Homo sapiens: one gene and its partner. The protein of the gene in region 2 binds, or shares a complex with, the protein of the main gene of each other region. Each region holds a gene or a part of one and is shown on either strand. Other genes may lie near its edges.

Region 1 (9,818 bases), on a different chromosome or scaffold from region 2:
GTGGTTGAGGAAGGCCTCTCAAAGCTAAGATGAGACTACTCCATGAGCAGGGATTGCCCTTGCCGCTCCATGAACACTGGCTTAGTCTTTGGAGAGAGATGAGCTAAAATTCCAGATTTATCACTTACTGAGCATGTGAGTTAGTTAAGGGTTCCTCCTATGCTACATGGCTCAAGACTACTTATACTGCATTTTTATACTGCCTCGTGTTTAATTGGCTGTTTACTCCTTGTCTGTCACTGCAGAATTTTCTAGCTAGAATGCCCTGGTTTTTTTTTTTGCAGGAAACTAGGTAACTACATTTTCTTAAGATTGTGTGTAATTTAGCAGTAGCCCCTGCAAAATACTTTCTGCAGAAAGAAATGCTTAATACGAAATTTTTTGTTTTTTGTTTTTTGTTTTTTTGTTTTTTTGTTTTTTTGTTTTTGAGATGAAGTCTCACTCTGTTGCCAGGCTGGAGTGCAGTGGTGTGATCTCAGCTCACTGCAACCTCCACCTCCCAGGTTCAAGCAATTCTCCTGCCTCAGCCTCCGAGTATCTGGGATTACAGGCACGTGCCATCACGCCCAGCTAATTTTTGTATTTTTAGTAGAGATGAGGTTTCAACTTGTTGGCCAGGATGGTCTTGATCTCTTGACCTCGTGATCCACCCACCTCGGCCTCCCGAAGTGCTGGGATTACAGGCATGAGCCACCTCGCCCGGCCTAATAAAAACTTTTAAACATTCATGCAGGCTTCTGTAAGGCCTTTGATACTTATTTAGTCTAATTGTTAAGATAGTTGAAACCCTCAGAAAATTAAAATTACATGGAATAACCGAAGTATTACTACAAAGAAATATTTTAAGCAGTTCTTTATCCTCAGGGTAGGAAATGTGCAGAATGGAAATGGGTTAGGACGTTGGCCCTAAAGAGGAACAGCTATACTACATTTACTTGCGAACAGTAAAATTGCTAGAGAAGATAGTGAATATAAAGAAAAGACACTTTGGGAGGCTGAGGCAGGCCGATCACCTCAGGTCAGGAGTTCGAGACCAGCCTGGCCAACATGGTGAAACCCTGTCTCTACTAAAAATACAAAAATTAGCCAGGCATAGTGGCAGATGCCTGTCATCCCAGCTACTCGGGAGGCTGAGGCAAGAGAATCGCTTGAACCCGGGAGGCAGAGATGAGCCAAGATCGCGCCATTGCGCTCCAGCCTGGGGGACAAGAGCGAGACTTCGTCTCACAAAAAAAAAATAAATAAATAAATAAATTATTTCTTGGATTTCTGGAGGCTGGAAAGTGTACGGTTCACAGGCTGCATCTGGTGAGGGCCTTCTTGCTGGTGTGGACTTGGTGTACAGTCCTGAAGCAGCACAGGGCATTACATGGCAAGGTAGGGGCACACAAGAGAAAGACAAACTGGCTTTTATAACATACCCACTCTGGTGATAACTTATTAACCCATGAATGGATTGAGCCTTCATAACCCAATCACCTCTTAAAGACCCCACCTCTTAATACTATTACATTGGGGATTAAGTTTCTGTATGAATTTCAGAGGGGACAAACATTCAAACCATAGCACTGTCGAACTGATTCTGATATGCTTCTGGAATTAAGAACCACTGGTTTAGGATTAATCCTTTTCTCTGTGGGCTCCTTAATACATGCCACTTTTCCTGAATGTGAAGTGAGTGAGTGAGTGTGTGTGTGTGTGCTTCAGATTCTAGAGAGCATTTAACTCAGAGAAGAATTAGGGAAAGGTAAACAATTCATTATAATGGGTAGTGTAGCTTAAATCTGTTCTTTGGTGATTGTTAATTTTTAGTTGTCAACATGATCTTAGAAATCTTTTTTCTGATTTACACATCAGACTGACATAATGAGAAATGAATTTGAAAGACTGGCTGCTCGACAACCAATTGAATTGCTCAGTATGAAACGGTAAGAATATTAAAATGGAAATTAAAATTTAGTTTGTAGTAACTCAGTAATGAGCTGAGATTTGTGAAGAATGTATTTGCTGGCTAATATTGGCAGTGTTGGCCGGGTGTGGTGGCTCACACCTGTAATTCCAGCACTTTGGGAGGCCGAGGCTGGTGGATTGCTTGAATCCAGGAGTTTGAGACCAGCCTGGGCAACATGGCAAAACCCCATCTCTACCAAAAATAATTAATAATAATAATAATAATAATAATAAACGTACCTGGGTGTGGTGGCACGCACCCGTGGACCCAGCTACTTGGAAAGCTGAGGTAGGTGGATCGCTTGACACCCCCCAGGAGATGGAGGTTGCAGCAAGCCGAGATTGTGCCACTGCACTCCAGCGTTGGGGACAGAGGGAGACCCAGTCTTGAAAAAAAAACTATATATATATATATATAGAGAGAGAGAGAGAGAGAGAGAGAGGCAGTGTTGAAGGACTGACTGGGTAGTATGAAGAGAGAATAGAAGGAGTCATATCGCTTCTCATTTTTTTCTCTACCGGCGCATGGGTATGTTAGTGGATGGGTGGGTGTGAGTATTTTACAAAAATGGTAGCAAACTTTTTTGTCTACTGCTTTTTCCCCTTAATATATTACTGACATCTTAATATTATTAAATATTCTTCAGTAACATTTAATAGCTAATGTAACAATCTTTTATGTGAATGTAATGTTGCTTATTTAACCAGTTCACATTGAAGTGAACATAATGGTGCTAAATCATATTTGTAAATTGATTGTTAGCATATATCGGTTTCTTATTATTGCAAGGTTTACATCCTTAGTCTTCTGTAGTTTTTATACTATATGGAGACTCATGGGACATTCTACTGAGAAGAGATGTAAAGGCTTGGCAGTATAGATGGTTTTATTTTATTTTGTTGTTTAATTTCAGATATGAGCTTCCAGCCCCCTCCTCTGGTCAAAAAAATGACATTACTGCATGGCAAGAATGTGTAAACAATTCTATGGCCCAGTTAGAGCATCAAGCAGTTAGAATTGAGAATCTGGAACTAATGTCACAGCATGGATGTAATGCCTGGAAAGTATACAATGAGTAAGAACCTTTTTCTTCATCTTCTGTTTTTTTTGTTTTTTCTCTTTTCTTTCCATCTCACCCAAAGTTTTAGTACATTTTAAAAGTATGGGAGGTGCTGGGTGCAGTGGCTCATGCCAGTAATCCCAGCCCTTTGGGAGGCAGAGGTGGGTGGATTGCTTGAGGTCAGGAGTTCGAGACCAGCCTGGCCAACATGGTGAAACCCCATTTCTACAAAAAAAAAAAATACAAAAAATTAGCTGGGCATGGTAACGTGTGCCTGTAATCCCAGCTACTCTGGAGGCTGAGGCATGACAATTGCTTCAGCCTGGGAGGCAGAGGTTGTAGTGAGCCAAGATTTTGCCACTGCACTCCAGCCTAGGCGACAGAATGAGACTCTATCTCAAAAAAAAAAAAAAAAAAAGAAAAGAAAAAGAAAAGCCGGGCGCGGTGGTTTACACCTGTAATCCCAGCACTTCAGGAGGCCGAGGCGGGTGGATCACCTGAGGTCAGGAGTTTGAAACCAGCCTGGCCAACATGGTAAAACCGCATCTCTACTAAAAAAAAAAAAAAAGATTAGCCGGCCATGGTGGCGCTTCTGTAGTCACAGCTACTCAGGAGACTGGGGTAGGAGAATTGCTTGAACCTGGGAGGCAGAGGTTGCAATGAGCTGAGATTGTGCCACTGCACTCCAGCCACAGTGACAGAGCGAGACTCCATCTCAAAAAACAAACAAAAAAACCCCACAAAGTATGGGTAGGGGAAGTGTGATAAAAATAATATAGCTAGACTTTGTCTTGGGATTATGTTCTAGAACTGCAACCCATATGAAAGGCCACTATTTTGAAACCCACCTCAAAGTTCAAGAGTACTAACAGGACCTAAACCAAACTACGACATTTATTGTATAATATTGTAACAAAACTAGTTCTGAGGTCCCATTTGCAGAGCACCACTTGATAGAATGTTATCAAGCGTTGCTTAAACAGTTGATTCTCATTAGTCATGGGTTATGTTCTTTAAGTCCTATGAACACTGAATTAGCAAATACTGTACCATTTCTCCTAGGGGAAATATATACATATTCATGTGCACACATATACATATCTCTCAAATAGATTATAATCTTAAATCCTAAAATAAACTCATCCTGGTAGACTTCTTTATTTTATAAAAGAGAAAACAAAGTTGAGAAATGTAAAGTAACTTTCTTGAAACTGCCCCACTAACAGATCCCAGACTTGGAACTTGAACTTCATCCTCTGGTTATTTCTGTATGAGAGCTAAAACAAGAAGGCAAAGCACCTCCTTGTTCATCCTCAGCTGAAAATGTGCATGCTCAGCTGCTCAGATTTTTCACCACTGTGCACATGTCCATGAATGACTGCAAAACACTACAAGTAGTAATTTTGGGATTACAAATAAATTTGAGCAAGTATTTGTTGTCAAAACAAGCCACTGACATCCTGTTTCTGTTCCATGTAACTAGCTCTAGCTTTAGTATTTATTGTCTATCTAGAATTCAGATTCCTTGCTTGCAAAATTCCGTGGTTAGATTATCTGCATGGCCCCTTTGTGCCCTAAAATTTCCTGAGTGTCTATTCACAATTTAAGAGAAAAAGGCCACTGAACTTCATAACAGTATGTACAACTTTCGTTAGAGTATGTTTCCTGAAACATAGCTATATAAAATAAAGCAAAACCATGAAATGATAATACTGTTTCTCAAATCTTCAGAATTATGCATTTAATATTTGTAGCCACATAAAAATGATCCAGTGGACAAAATCCAGAATTTGGGAAACTCTACAAAGCCAACAACTAACTTTCTTTTATATATCTATATATTGCAAGGGGGGAAAAAGAAGAAAGAATGGGATTAGGGTGATTAAGAAATGTAAGCGACATCAATAAATCTGTTTCACAAAATGGAAAAATGTGATTCTTCTCAAGAAGCTTTATCTAATGGAAGAGATAATAAGTTTTATGCCAAGTAACCAATAGTCCATTTTTGGCAATATGGGGGCAAGTGCTACATTGTGTGCTGTGGTCTGTAAACTAAGCGTTAAGAGATGGGGCATTGCCAGGCGTGGTTCACGCTTATAATCCTAGTGCTTTGGGAGGCTGAGACAGGAGGATCACTTGAGGCCAAGAGTTTGAGACCAGCCTGGGCAACGTAAGTGAAACCCTGTCTCTATAGAAAACAATAAAAAAAATAGCCAGGTATGGTGGTACACACTTGTAGTCTGTTTCAAAAAAAAGAAAAAAAAAGATGGGGCATTAAGTTGAAGGTTGTTGAAGAAAGGTGAAATTGGGATGTTTAGAAGGAAACAAGGAAAACATTCCAGGAATGGAGAGCATAGATGCAGAGGAAAAAATATGACATTGAAAAGAACACTGCTGTCAACTTACCTGAAAACCTTTAATAATTCCCTATTACCTGCAAGGTAGAGGCCAAGTTTTTTTTTTTTTTTTTTTTTTTTTTTTTGGAGGTGGGGGCGGGGGGCGGGACAGAATCTTGCTCTGTCGCCCAAGCTAGATTGCAGTGCCACAATCTCAGCTCACTGCAACCCTCCCGGGTTCAAGCAACTCTTCTGCCTCAGCCTCCAGAGTAGGTGGGATTATAGACACCACCACGCCTGGCTAATTTTTGTATTTTTTGTGGAGACGGGGTTTCACCATGTTGGCCAGGCTGGTCTTGAGCTCCTGGCCTCAAGTGATCCTCCAGCATCAACCTCTCAAAGTGCTGGGATTACAGGTGTGAGCACCCGGCTGGGCCAGGCTTTTTAACGTGGTATTCAAGGGCTTTTCCTTACTACCTCAACTGTAGACTTTTAACTCAACCCAAACTAGTCCTTTCTCTGGTGATTATTGCAAATCCTGCCTCTGGGCCTTTACTTGCCCTTGTCTTTACCTGTTATACCCAAATTCAGCTTGTTTAGGGCTCAGCTCTAGTTTGCTTACTTGTCTTCTTCCCTGATTGAAATTCTGCTTCTAGTATTGTCTCCCTCTTCTGAGTAACTATACACAGAATTATTGTGCACATCACTTGTTTTCCATTTAATCACAAAGTGCTCTATAGTGCTTCACATTCCCCTAAGCATATTTTGTCTCCTCCAAATTCAGTGGACACTTCTCCAGAGGAGATGTACTATATTTTATCAAAGTATATTTAAGAGGAAGGGTGGGAGAAGGGAGAAGACAAACTAAACTTTCAGGGAGAGCCAATTCAAAGGAAAGCTCCCTGTTAGTGGTCAGAAGTCTGGAATAGAGCACTAAAATCAATAGTGCTCAGCATGGAGTGATTGTCGAAGTCAAGGAAAGGGGGATGACCTGAGGGAAAGCCTAGAGAGGCACAGCTGTTTAAAGACTGAATCTTGAGAGAATTGCAGCTAATGCAAGGAAACCAGTCAGTAGAGGTAGGAGAATAACTCAGGTGAGCAACAGAAAATTTGAGTCACAAAAGCCAGGAAACAATATTAGATTTAGAGCAAGAACACATTAGGGCCAGATGTGGTAAAAATGGACCCTGTAGGTGATTGATCCACTGCCTTAAGAGGAAATTGATATGATGTGGAATTATATCTTAATAAAGTTGTTATTTAAACTTAAAAAAGAGATTAAAATCTGTTTCATTACTTCTCTAAAATAATTATATGGTACTCTGTATTATTGAACTTTTCCCCTGTGCTAGTTACAGCTGACCTGGACTGGTATCTATTTTTTATTTTGCTATGCATATGTTACATGCAAATATGGACTGATATCTCATTCTACAACAGTTTTCTTTTTCTCACCTCTCTCTAGTTAGCAGTAGACAGGAGGAGAGAATGACAAGGTGAATGTATATGCAGAAATATAGAGATAAAAGGGGGTTGAGAAATAAAATAAGTGGGTACTCAGATATATTCCATCTTTTCTATGACAAGAAGTCATGACAGTTTAAGAAGTGACAAAAGGCCGTGTGGCTCACACATGTAATTCCAACACTTTGGAGGCTGAGGTGGGGAGATTGCTTGAGCCCAGGAGTTCAAGACCAGCCTGGACAACGTGGTGAAACCCTGTCTCTACAAAAAAGTAATGAAAATTAGCCGGGCATGGTGGCTTATGCCTGTAATCCAAGCTACTTTGAAGGCCTGAAGTGGGAGGATCAGTTGAGCCCAGGAGGTTGAGGCTGCCATGATTGCACCACTACACTCCAGCTTGAGCAACAGGAGAGCAAGACTCTGTCCCTCCCCTCCGCAAAAAAAAGCTGGGTACAGTGGCTCACGCCTGTTATCTCAGCACTTTGGGAGGCCGAGGCAGATGGATCACTTGAGGTCAGGAGTTCGAGACCAGCCTGGCCGACATAGTGAAACCCCATCTCTACTAAAAAAAAAAATACAAAAATTAGCAAGGCATGGCAGTACATGCCTGTAATCCCAGCTACTTGGGAGGCTGAGGCAGGAGAATCTCTTGAACCAGGAAGCAGAGGCTGCAGTGAGCTGAGATCTCACCACTTCGCTCCAGCCTGGGCAACAGAACGAGACTGTCTCAAAAAAAAAAAAGTAACCTAAGTACTCCAAGATCAGGCAGGGCATGGTAATCCCAGCAGTTTGGGAGGCCAAGGTGGGAGGATTGCAGCTCCTTGGGAGGCTGAGGCAGGAAGATTACTTGATCATGGGAGGTGAAGGCTGCAGTGAGCCATGATCACACCACTGCATTCCAGCATGAGTGACAGTCCTCGATTATGGAGTGTCCAACATAGTTCTTGGCACAGAGCTCCATAAATATGATTTTTGGCAGAAAAACTTGAAAAAGTTCACTTTTAATTGGTACTATTTTAATGTATTTTAATCTGATTTTCCTCTTTTCCTTCAGAAATCTAGTTCATATGATTGAACACGCACAGAAGGAACTTCAGAAGTTAAGGTAAATTGTTTTTTCCTATTACAGAATGAAGTTTAAGTGAACCTTTAATAAATAGAAAATAGGAGGAAAAAGAAAGCAAAGAGACTGCAGCCAGATGAAAGTAAACAATTGATCCACTCTCTTTGTTCAACATCTGACACTGGGTTTGCCCTACCTAAGTAGAGGAGAAATAGGCCTGAGGTCTGAAAACATCTCTGCCACTTGCAGCTTGCAAGTCTGCAAACATAGAAAGGCACTTTTAGAGTGGGAAAAGTTGCAGAATAACACATATAATCTGATTTTTAAAACCAATTTCTACACACACATATAGGAAAGCCTGGAAGGACACCCAGCAAAAACTCAACAGGAGTTATCAGGAAAAAGGAGACATGCATGAGAGGGGGGACTTGAGACTTGTAATCTGTGTGTGCTTGTGTGTGTGTGTGTGTGTGATTTCTCACAATGAGCATGTTTTATGAAACTTGTAATCAAAAAATAATTAGAAGAAAGGTAATTTCTACAGTTAGCCTATAACTGTACATAATATTGTTCTCATGGGATTAAGATATTCTCTTGTGTTATAGAGTTTTCTGTTGATTTAGGTCTTACATTAAAATGTAATTGGGTTGTATAAATAATTTTTTACAGAAAACATATTCAAGATTTAAACTGGCAGAGAAAGAACATGCAACTCACAGCTGGATCTAAATTGAGAGAAATGGAGTCAAAGTGAGTATCTATAATTCCATCATCTTTTAAATTGTTTAGCCCTTTCTAAGGTCGATTCAATAATATGATTCAAATAGCATTCAAATGGGATGCCACAGGTAACAAAGAAATGCTATTTTCTGAATTCACCCTTCCCCGTCTCTGCCTCTTTATAAGGTGTTAAAGAGAACTATAAACGAGAATTGAACCATTGGCGAAGGATCCTTTGCTAAATTGAACCATTGCTAAAGGATTCTGGTCTTAGAATACCCTGTTTTTAGTCTAGTATTTTTGGCCTTGAATAGAACTCTACCTTTATTCTCCTTTTAAACGGAAAAAAAAAAAAAATAGGCACGGTGGCACATGTCTGTAGTCCCAGCTACTCTGGAGGCTGAGGCAGGAGGATTGCTTAACCTGGAAGGTTGAAGCTGCAGTGAGTCATAATCACACCACTGCACTCCAGCCTGGGCAACAGAGCAAGACCTAGTCTTTAAAAAAAAAAAAAGGAAAAAAATTATTTTATAAAATCTTGTAGGGAGGGAGATTTCATACTTGGTAATTTTTTTGTACCTCAGGTTTATGCATTTTTAAAAATGTTCTTTTACATACACACATGTATACCTTTATACAATATAATCTTGAATATTTGTGTCATTTCTCTCTTCCTTTTTGCTTGGCCATTCCCTTTCTCCCTTCATTACTCAAGTCATTCTTGTTCCACCGTCTCCATGTACGTCTTACCAGTCTCGTTGGTACCCTTTCACGCTTTTTCCTCAATTTAATAAACTATTGCCTCTTTCCTTTTTGTTGATTAAATACTATCTTCATCACTCTTTCCTCTTTCTTCTGGTTTGCAAGTTCTCTCATCTGTTTCTAATTTGCTTTTTTATTAAACTTTTATTTTTAGATAATTATAGATTCACATGCAATTGTAAGAAATAATACAGAGAGCCAGGTGTGGTGACTCACATTGTAATCCTAGTGCCTTGGTAGGCCAAGGTAGGAGGATTGCTTGAAGCCAGGAGTTCAAGCCAGCCTGGGCAACATAACGAGACCCTGTCTCTACAAAAAAATGCTTTTAAATGAGCCAGGCATGATGGCATGCACCTGTAGTCTAAGCTCTTCAGGAGGCTGAGGTTGGAGGATTGCTTGAGCTCAGGAGTTCCAGGCTAGTGAGCTGTGATCACACCACTGCATTTCAGCCTAGGCAACAGA
Region 2 (9,818 bases):
ACACTCTAGCAATTTTCATCTTAATTTCACCTCGCTGATCTAGAGAATTACGAAAGACACTGCACCAGTGAGAATTCAAGAACTCAAGGTTAAAACACAATGTAGTTTCCTAACTGCTTTTCGACATGAAAAAAAAAAGTTCTTTATGCACAATTTCAATTTTCATATGCTCAGATTTTAAAACTAAAATAGTATATACATTTTGTCTGAATGGAAAACACTACCGATTTTTTTAAATAAAATCACATTGTCTTAAACCCAGTTAATGAACTGTAACACTAAGGTACCTAAGATGTAGATGGTGAACATAACCTGCAGAAACTCTGCTCCAAATTGAGAGACGTGTATCTACCAAGCGGGCGAAGGAAATACTGGTGTTCAAAGAAGTAAACTGAATTTCTTAAATTTCCAGTATCATTACCCGCAGCATAGCTTCCTCATAATGTATCCTTAGGTTCAAGCAATGGGGATGTAATAAAGACGACAGGGACTACATGAGCTCTCTCATGTTTACTGAACACCTACAGCAAGGCAAGTACTGTGGTAGGCACTAGAGACAAACAAGACACCGTCCATCTCCTAAAAGGAACAGAGTCTAATGCAGGAACCACTGAGTACAGAAATAACAACAAAACAAATGGCAAAGATGTTAAAGACTGATCACATGCATTGTGGGCAAGAACACAAGAAAAGAGATGCTGCTGCTGGGGGGAGAATTTAAAAATACAGTGAGAAAATTGGCAGTAGCTATCATTAAAATGTACATACCCTTCAATCTGGGAATTCAAAATTTAGGTATCTATCCTATGGAAATATATGCACACAAAGACACATGTACAAGTAGGTTCACTATAGCATTTTTCATAAAAGCCGATTTTAAAATAATCAAATGTCCATTAATAGAAAATAATTAAATAAGTCATGGTATTTCCAAACCATGAAATACTATGCACCAATTAAAAAAACACAAGGTAGATATGCATGTACCACCTGGACAGATCTGTTAGATGACCCAAAAAATCAAGGTGCAGAATATGCACAGTATGATTTAAGTAGAAACAAATACATTTGCATAATTAACTGTTCACAAGGTTCCTCTAGGCAGAGGAATGGAAAGGGATCAGAGTAGTGAAGGAAAACTTTCATTTTTCACTCTACTCATGTACCACTGGTATTTTCAGAATGACAATCTATTCATGCATTACTTGTGTAATTACACACACACACACACACACACACACACACACACACACAGTGCTCCTGTATGGTGGAGATCAGTACAAAACCTGATAGGACTCTAATGCTGGATAAGCTGGGCCCTGATCTATTAATAGCTACTCCTACTATCAAAGAGGGCTGTGGCCCTAGGCCCAGTAACCACATTCTCCCCACTCTGCCTTCTCATCCACAGCACAGGGACAACATAGTTGACCACGCTGGCCTCTCTAGGTTGCCATGAAGACTCTGTGCCCGCTGACACCTCTGTGCCTTTGTTCATGCTCCTCATATTGCCTGGCATGCCTTCCTGTGTTCTTTTCCGCCTAATAAAAATGAATCTTCAAGGCCCAGCTCAACTACTATCTTTTCTGTGACACCCTCAATAGCCCCCAACTTGGTATTTACTGTTTCTTCTCCTATTATATCTCTTTTAAAGTGTCTGTTTCCTTCTACCTTGCCTTTATAGTCAGTCTCCCTAGTAACCTAAAAACTTGAGTGCAAAGCCTGTACTACTCAATTGTTAATTGCCTGGGGGCCTTGGGCATATTAAGATTCATTAAAATTGTATGTCCTGGGAGGGACAAAGATAGGGAAAGAAAGAGAGGTTTAGAACATTAAAATCGTATAAATGTGAAAGTCCCCTTGGTTAGGATTCAAGACTGACTGAAAGATGCCAGATTCCTCACATAGCACTTCATAGTGCACCAAGGTGCCAGTGTAGTAAAACTCACGTTAACTATCATCTCATGGGCACCTACTATGTGCCAGGTACTAAGCTAAACACTTACATTATTCTCCTTTAATCTTCATACAACCCTGTGAGGAAGGCATTATTTCCTTATACAGATGAGACACCCAAGGCTAAGAAAGGGGAAGTAACTTATTCAAAGGGATGTGTGTATCACACCAATATCTGTCTAACTTCAGAGCCTCTGAAATGATCTCCACAGTAAAGCTATCACTAACGGCAGGCACGATCAGTCTTCTTTGGGCACTGAAAAGAATAATGCAGGAGAGTTAATATGTTAACTGCGGGGCTGATCTTGAAAAGGGCTAGCTTACAAGGCTGGCCCTAGGCTGGCAGCCAGGAATTTGGCTTTTGAAATGTTCCCTAAGTGATAAGGTTGCTGCTTTGTCAGCCCGGGGCACTGAACAGCTGCTTTCCTTCCAGGAGCCTACAATTTTGGTTGTTATTGTTATTACAGGCAGAGAATGCCTACATGACCAGTCCTCCATAAAAACCCTGAACTCAGAGTCTGAAATGGGCTTCCCTGGACAGCATCACTGCACACATGTTGATGCATTTCATTGCTGAAGAAAGAAGCATGTTTGTATAATCCCACCCACTGGGAAGGAGAAAACATAGGAAGCCTGTATCTGAATTTCTCCAGATGCCACCTGATGTGTCTTTTTCTCTTGCTGATCCTGTTGTGTGCCCTGTGTAATAAACCACAGCCCTGAGTATCACTGACTTTGAGTCCTGGGAGTCCTTCTAGTGAATTCCCAAACATGGGGGTCATCCTGGGATTCCTGGCCCAAATCACAAAAGCCAAAACAAACCAAAATCAAAACAAAATTAGCCAACGAAACGCCACAGAGGAGACATGGTATCAGTGGAACAGAACCTTACTTCTCTGGATTGTCTGGAAACTTAATCCGCAATTCTTGGTTTTTATATGATCTCTTTTCAAATGTGAGGATCATTTTCTTCACTGAGCTTTCATCCAATGGCTCCTCCTGGTACAAAGAGACAAATGCAAAAACTTCAGTCCACAGGGGTTTCACATTCATTGTCACTACTTTCCTGTGGCTCTTATACCCCACCTCACTCTGCCATTGACCTTTCTGGGTTCAATGTACAGTACACTTTTTTTGTTTTGTTTTGTTTTTTGAGATGGAGTCTTGCTCTGTCGCCCAGGCTGGAGTACAGTGGTATGATCTCAGCTCACTGCAATCTCTGCCTCTCAGGTTCAAGCGATTCTCCTGCCTCAGCTTACCGAGTAGCTGGGACTACAGGCACATGCCCCCATGCCCGGCTAATTTTTTTGTATTTTTAGTAGAGACAGGGTTTCTTCGTGTTAGCCAGGATGGTCTCGATCTCCTGACCTCGTGATCTGCCCACCTTGGCCTCCCAAAGTGCTGGGATTACAGGTGTGAGCCACTGTGCCCGGCCACAGTACACACTTTATCTCTCTAATTACAATGAGGAGTAAGGGCCTGTAATCACATGCTTCTTTTCGGGTATATCACATTGGGTGTCTCACACAATGCCCACTATCTGTAACACAGAAAATTCGGTTTGAGGTGTTAAAGACTGGGCACTTCAGCACTTCAGGAGTCCAAGGTGGGCAGATCACTTGAGGTCAGGAGTTCAAGACCAGCCTGGCCAACATGGCAAAACCCCATCTCTACTAAAAATACAGGCACATGCCTGTAGTCCCAGCTACTCGGGAGGTTGAGGCATGAGAATCACTTGAACCTGGGAAGCAGAGGTTGCAGTGAGCCGAGACTGTGCCGCTGCACTCCGGCCTGGGTGAGAGAGGGAGACTCTGTCTCAAAAAAAAAAGAAAAGTTGTTAAAGACTCACTCATTCAACAAATATTTCTTGAGCACACTGTATGGCAGAGAGTAAGCAACAATATTAGATAATATTATTATACATTTACCTTGTCATCCTTTGCTATACATGTAAGATAAGACTGACAGGTTTAAAAGAATTGTTTAAGGTCAAACTCTGAGTCAGTGACAGTGACCCTTAATCTTTTCCTACAGCAGAAGTTGGCAAACTGCAGCCCATGAGCCAAATCCAACCTACTGCCTGTTTTTCCACAGTGCGTAAACTAAGAACGGTTGTTAATTAGCTATAGTCACTGCTTAGCATTTCTTATATATTACTTTGCCTGGTACTTACTAGATGCTGAGAAGGAATTCAGACAGGTACTTTGAACCCTGAAGTAGCATCAAGAATTTAGTAACCTTGCCTAGAGAATGCAAAAAAAAGCTAGTAGACTGTACAGAATTTTCTGGCTTCATACATTGGAATAATACCTATGAAAGCAAATAAAATGAATATTTGAAAACTAAATCATTTTTTCTCCAAAAAATCTACACTGAAATTTCACACGTTTTATCTTCAGTTTCCTTCCAGTTTAAATTAATGTGCTGCAATGCACCCTGCTTCTCTTCATACTATCCCAACTCAAAGCTTCACAGCTTTGTAGTCATTGACCATAACTCACACCTAAAAGCAATAAAGAAACTGCTATTAAGAGAACCTGAAATAGATCCTTTTGGAAAGCACTGAATCATCCCATAATTTTATAAGTACTCAAAAATGTTAGCTATTATTCTATTATTAAATTTCTATTTCCACATATGGGGTTTTAAGTGGGAGCTACCCATAAATTCATTTTCAGCATGACACATTTATTAGATTATACCAATGACTCCTAGATCCCAAGGTTCTCTATTGAACCCCTACCTCCTCCCCAGGGTCTACAGCTTAAAGACAGGTTCCCTGACACAGTAAAAACAAGTCAGAGTCCTGGCTCAGTCAAGACTCAGAGCCTAGCTTCACTACTTACTAGCCATGGGACAATGTTACTTTGCTGAATATATTTCTCAAAGCTTCATCAAGTCCAGCTAATTCTATCTCCTAAGTCTTTCCTGAACTCATCCACTACACACTTAGAATAAAATCCCAAATCCCTCACATGATCTACGTAAGGATCTGGCAGGATCTGCCCAGATAATCTCTCCAACCCCAAACCAGTGCAAAGACTCCCATTGCTAGCCCATGTCTACTTGTTCTCTGGCATAAGTAGACTCTCCAGTGTCTGGCACACAGCAGGTACTCAGTGAAGATCTGAGGAATGGAGGAAGGGAGGAGGGGAGGGGAGGGGAAGGAAGGGGATGAATGAAATTGTTACCTGTTATCTCTCAAGGTCATAGAGATGACCTAAAGAAAGGATGTACATAAAACTACTTTGTAAACTACATGAATGCAAGCTGTTATGGTTATTATCAGCAACAGGCACAATGTACCCAACATACCACTAGAATTTAACTAAAATAATCAAAACATTTCTAGGAAAGGGTTAAATCACTTTCAAGTAAGCTCAATATCTGCTACTTTTTCTTTTCTTAGCTAACATCTTGCCCCACTCTGGAGAAAAACCACATTAGTGTTAACACAGCTCTCATGGGATTTCCGAAGTCCTAGCCTCTCCGGGGTTTGGCCTTCCCTCCTTTAATTTCTCTCCAACACTGGGGGAAAACTGAATTATCAGTCTTAGTCATCAGCCACAGCAGTATCTCCAATAGCTCAACGTCAGAAACCAGAGGGAGATTTCAGAAAGATGAATGCTGATGATGTAGCACAAAAAGGACAATAATATTTTACAAGTTCACGTGACTTTACAGGGGCAAACATCACTTGTTTTTCATCAAATGGGACTTCAGTGGCAGTGAGAAAATAACTCCTGGACTTGTAGCCTTCCATGTGTCATTTTTACAAAGCGATCTCTTTTTCCCTGTCCCTTAACAGACGGGTTGGTCCCACATTACATTTCTGTCTCCCAGGCTAGAAACCACTTACCCATGACAGCTACTATCCTAATCCTCCAGTACCAGCCTTGCCCTACATGGGAATTATACCTGCCAATTAACTGCTGCTGCAGGGCTAACAGATTGAGCAGAAGCTGGTGAGGAGGGAAGGGAGGGAGGATGTGCTACACACACTGTTTGTCTAAGCCCTGGCAAGGCTGCTGCCCTCAGAGAGGAAATTAAAAAATTCAGGACTGTCTCCCACCACGTATTTCTAAAGTGCCATCATCTTTTAGCGGGAGACCCCCAAATTAGCACTAGTACAAATCCTAATAAAGACAGAGCTATTGTCACAACACAGTAAAGACCTTTTTGGAATATGAATCCATTTTTTCTTCTTCTCAGATTCACAGCCAACCTCATTTTGTAATCCAAACTTAGCATCGTGTCTTTGAGAGAACCAAAAAACAGCTGGCTCTTAAGACTCTTATTTCCATAATTCATATTGAACAAAATGCCAGAGTGAAATAACACACAAGTTAACACTTAAAGATTTAAAAAGACACAGAGGTAAGGTCATTTTGTTTTTAATCACTGATATTTTACCTCTACTCTTCCCAGCTTCATTCATTTATTCATTCAATAAATATTTATTAAGGGCCTACCAAGAGCTAGGTATTGCTCTGGGTGCCAAAGATAGAGCTGTGAACAGAACAGAGCCAGTCTCTGTTTTCATGGGAGGCTGAGAGGAGGACAGCAATGAGCAAAATAAACAACTAGAATTTCAAATCATGATACGTGCTATGCAGACAATATACAAAATACAGTAATGAGGAAATGAGAGAATGGCTTGCAGGGCTACATAGGAAAGACTTCTTGGAGGAGGAAACATCTGAACTGAGACCTGAATGTGAAGAAACCAGTCATACAAAGCATTAAGGGAGACGAGCATTCCAACAGAGGACACAGAAGTCCAAAGGTCCAGAGGCAGGAATGAGTGGAAAGGCCCCAACGCATCTTGAGGAACAGCAAAGGGAAAGGCCCGAGGAATCTCCTTCCCTAAGCTGTACTTTTGCAGTCACACCTAAATACCTAATACTGTGGAACCCATTAAACTTCTCCACTTTTGTTGCTTTGCTAATACCATTTTCTCTGCCCAAAAAGCCCTTCCTTCCACTTGGTGAAATTTGACCCCTCTTTCAAAGATAATAATGCAAGTGCCTTCTATGTGTCCTCAGTAAGATCCAGGAAGCCTGCCCTGACCCTCCCCTACAGTACATAATATGGAACAATTTTAAAACTCTGTCACATTCTTTACATCTCATAAGATGCTTTCCCAACTGCACTAGCCCACTTAACCTTCACATTAACGCGATGAAATATGAATTCTTAACCCCATTTTACAGATGAAGATGGGAAGCTCAGACAAGCTTAGTATTTGGCCCAAAATTACGTTTTACAGGGCCAGCCATCTCAGCTCCCACCCAGCGCTGCCACGTTACCTCTTCCTCTTCCTCTTCCCCATCTCTGTCAATAATCTGCAGCAGCCTTTTTTTGTCATCATCCGCTTCCTCCACCACAGTCATTTCTTCTTCCCGATAGCGGCCGCGTTCTCGAGTACCAGTTTGTTTCCGACGCATCTTCTGCTCCTCCTCTTCATCATCCCGGGGACGTTTTGTGCCCCTATTGGGCTGAGAGAAAAGAAACATAAGATTTTAGAGCTGGATACAACATAGAAGCCAGGCGTGGTGGCTCATGCCTATAATCCCAGCACTTTGGGAGGCCAAGGCAGGCAGATCTCTTGAGCCCAGGAGTTTGAGACCAGCCTGAGGCAACATGGTAAAACCCTGACTCTACAAAAAATACAAAAAAAGACTTTGCAAGGCATAGACAGCAAATATCCTAAAAGCTTTCAAGAATTCTCTGACTCAAAAGCATCCAGCATACAACTTCTCCCACCACATGGGGTAAAGCTCTATGTGGTCATTTTTCAGATCCTTAATGATTCTATAAATATACCATGAAAGTCAGTGGGAATTTTTTTATACGCAGTTTTGCCATTTCACAAAAGTTCCTATGTATACGGAAATAGCAACAAAGCTATCTTAAGATGGGGACACTGGGTTAGGCTCACATACTAGTCAAGATATAACTCCCAATGCCAGCGTCTTAGCACCTGGTTTTAATTCACATCTACGTAAGATTACAAAGCCTTTTTTACAGTTACTCACAAATAGTACAAACATAAAATATTACATATGTAACTTCTGAATGTCTACTGTACTCCCAATTCTATTTTACAGAAGAGTTGAGTAAGGCCCAGAGCCTGGGCAAAGGACCTAAATAGACACTTCTCAAAAGAAGATGTACAAATGGCCAGAAGATATATGAAAAAAATGCTTACCATCACTAATCATCAGGGAAATGCAAAGAAAAATCACAATGAGTTATCATGTCACACCTATCAGAATGGCTATCATGAAAAAGACAGAAGATAAAGTGTTGTTGAGGGTGTAGAGAAAAGAGAACCCTGTGCACTGTTGATGGAAACACAAATTAATACAGCCATGATGGAAAACAGATGGAGGTTCCTCAAAAAATTAAAAATAGAATTATCATATGATCCAGCAATCCCACTTTTGGGTATGTAACCAACAGAATTGAATTCAGTATGCTGAGAAGATATCTGCCCTGTTCATTGTAGCATTATTCACAATAGCTAAGATATGGAAGCAACCTATGTGTCCGTCACTAGATGAATGGATAAAAAAAATGTATACATACACAATAGAATTCTACTCAGCCCTAAAAAGTGGGGAAATTCTGTCATTTGAGACAACCTGGATAAACCTGGAAGACATTAAGCAAAGTGAAATAAGCCAGGCACAGAAAGACAAATACCTCGTAATCTCACTTGTATGTGGAATCTAAAAAAGCTGAACTCATAGAAGTAGAGAGTAGAATGATCGTCACCAGAGGCTGGGGAGGAAGGGAGACGGAGGGAAATGTTGACTAAAGAGTATAAGTTTCAGTAAGGCCGGGTGCGGTGGCTCACACCTGTAATCCCAGCACTTTGGGAGGCTGAGGCGGGCAGATCACCTGAGGTCAGGAGTTCAAGACCAGCCTGATCAACATGGAGAAACCCCATCTCTGCTAAAAATACAAAATTAGCCAGGCGTGGTGGTGCATGCCTGTAATCCCAGCTACTTGGGAGGCTGAGGCAGGAGAATCGCTTGAACCCGGGAGGCAGAGGTTGCGGTGAGCCGAGATCGTGCCATTGCACTCCAGCCTGGGCAACAAGAGTGAAACTCCGTCTCAAAAAAAAAAAAAAGTTTCAGTTAAACAGGAAGATAAGCTTTAGTGATCTATTGCACTGAATGCTGAATATAATAAATAATAATGAACTGTACATTTAAAAATTGATAAAACGATTTTAAATATTTTCACTACAGAAAAAGTATTAAAGGTGATAGATTTGTTAATTAGCCTGATGTAATCATTCCAGACTGTAAACATATATCAAAATATCACCTTGTACCCTATAAATATATACAATTATTTGCTAATTAAAAATAAAAGTTTTTTAAATCAAATATAATAATAATAATAAAGGCCCAGAAGCCAAGTATTACATAAGATCACAAAACCACTCGTGCACCACTGAAAATAGAACTGGCACTTCCAGACTCCTAGTCCAAGGACCTTTCTACCATACTCTGTTAGGACCTCATGTTGCCTTTTGTTGTTGTTTACTTTTTAGAGATGAGGTTTCACTATGTTGCCTAGGCTGGACCTGAACTTCTGGGCTCCAGCAATCCTCCTGCCTCAGCCCTCTGAATAGCTGAGACTACAGGTGTGTGCCACTGCAGCCAGCTCATTTTGCCTTTTACAATGCAATCCATGAAGAAGGTCTTACTGTTGTTTTCCATTAAATTAGAATAAAACAGAGCAGTAGTGAAAGGGGCTTCAGAGCTGAAGAGACACAGCACTGCCCAGACACCAAACAGCCCAGTGTCTCCATTCAGCTCAACTTACTCCTGGTTCAACTTTGGGCC

Evidence for each region.
Region 1: CTNNBL1 (region 2) and BCAS2 share a complex: the UniProt entries of both Homo sapiens proteins name them as parts of the PRP19-CDC5L splicing complex.

Annotation. Positions count from the first base shown.
Region 1 is NC_000001.11:114,568,798-114,578,615, reverse strand, and holds part of BCAS2 (pre-mRNA-splicing factor SPF27), read left to right. Parts: intron 1-1,857; coding exon 1,858-1,928; intron 1,929-2,864; coding exon 2,865-3,026; intron 3,027-7,865; coding exon 7,866-7,916; intron 7,917-8,543; coding exon 8,544-8,624; intron 8,625-9,818. UniProt on the Homo sapiens protein: Required for pre-mRNA splicing as component of the activated spliceosome. Component of the PRP19-CDC5L complex that forms an integral part of the spliceosome and is required for activating pre-mRNA splicing.
Region 2 is NC_000020.11:37,730,515-37,740,332, reverse strand, and holds part of CTNNBL1 (beta-catenin-like protein 1), read right to left. Parts: intron 7,455-9,818; coding exon 7,266-7,454; intron 2,956-7,265; coding exon 2,849-2,955; intron 1-2,848. UniProt on the Homo sapiens protein: Component of the PRP19-CDC5L complex that forms an integral part of the spliceosome and is required for activating pre-mRNA splicing.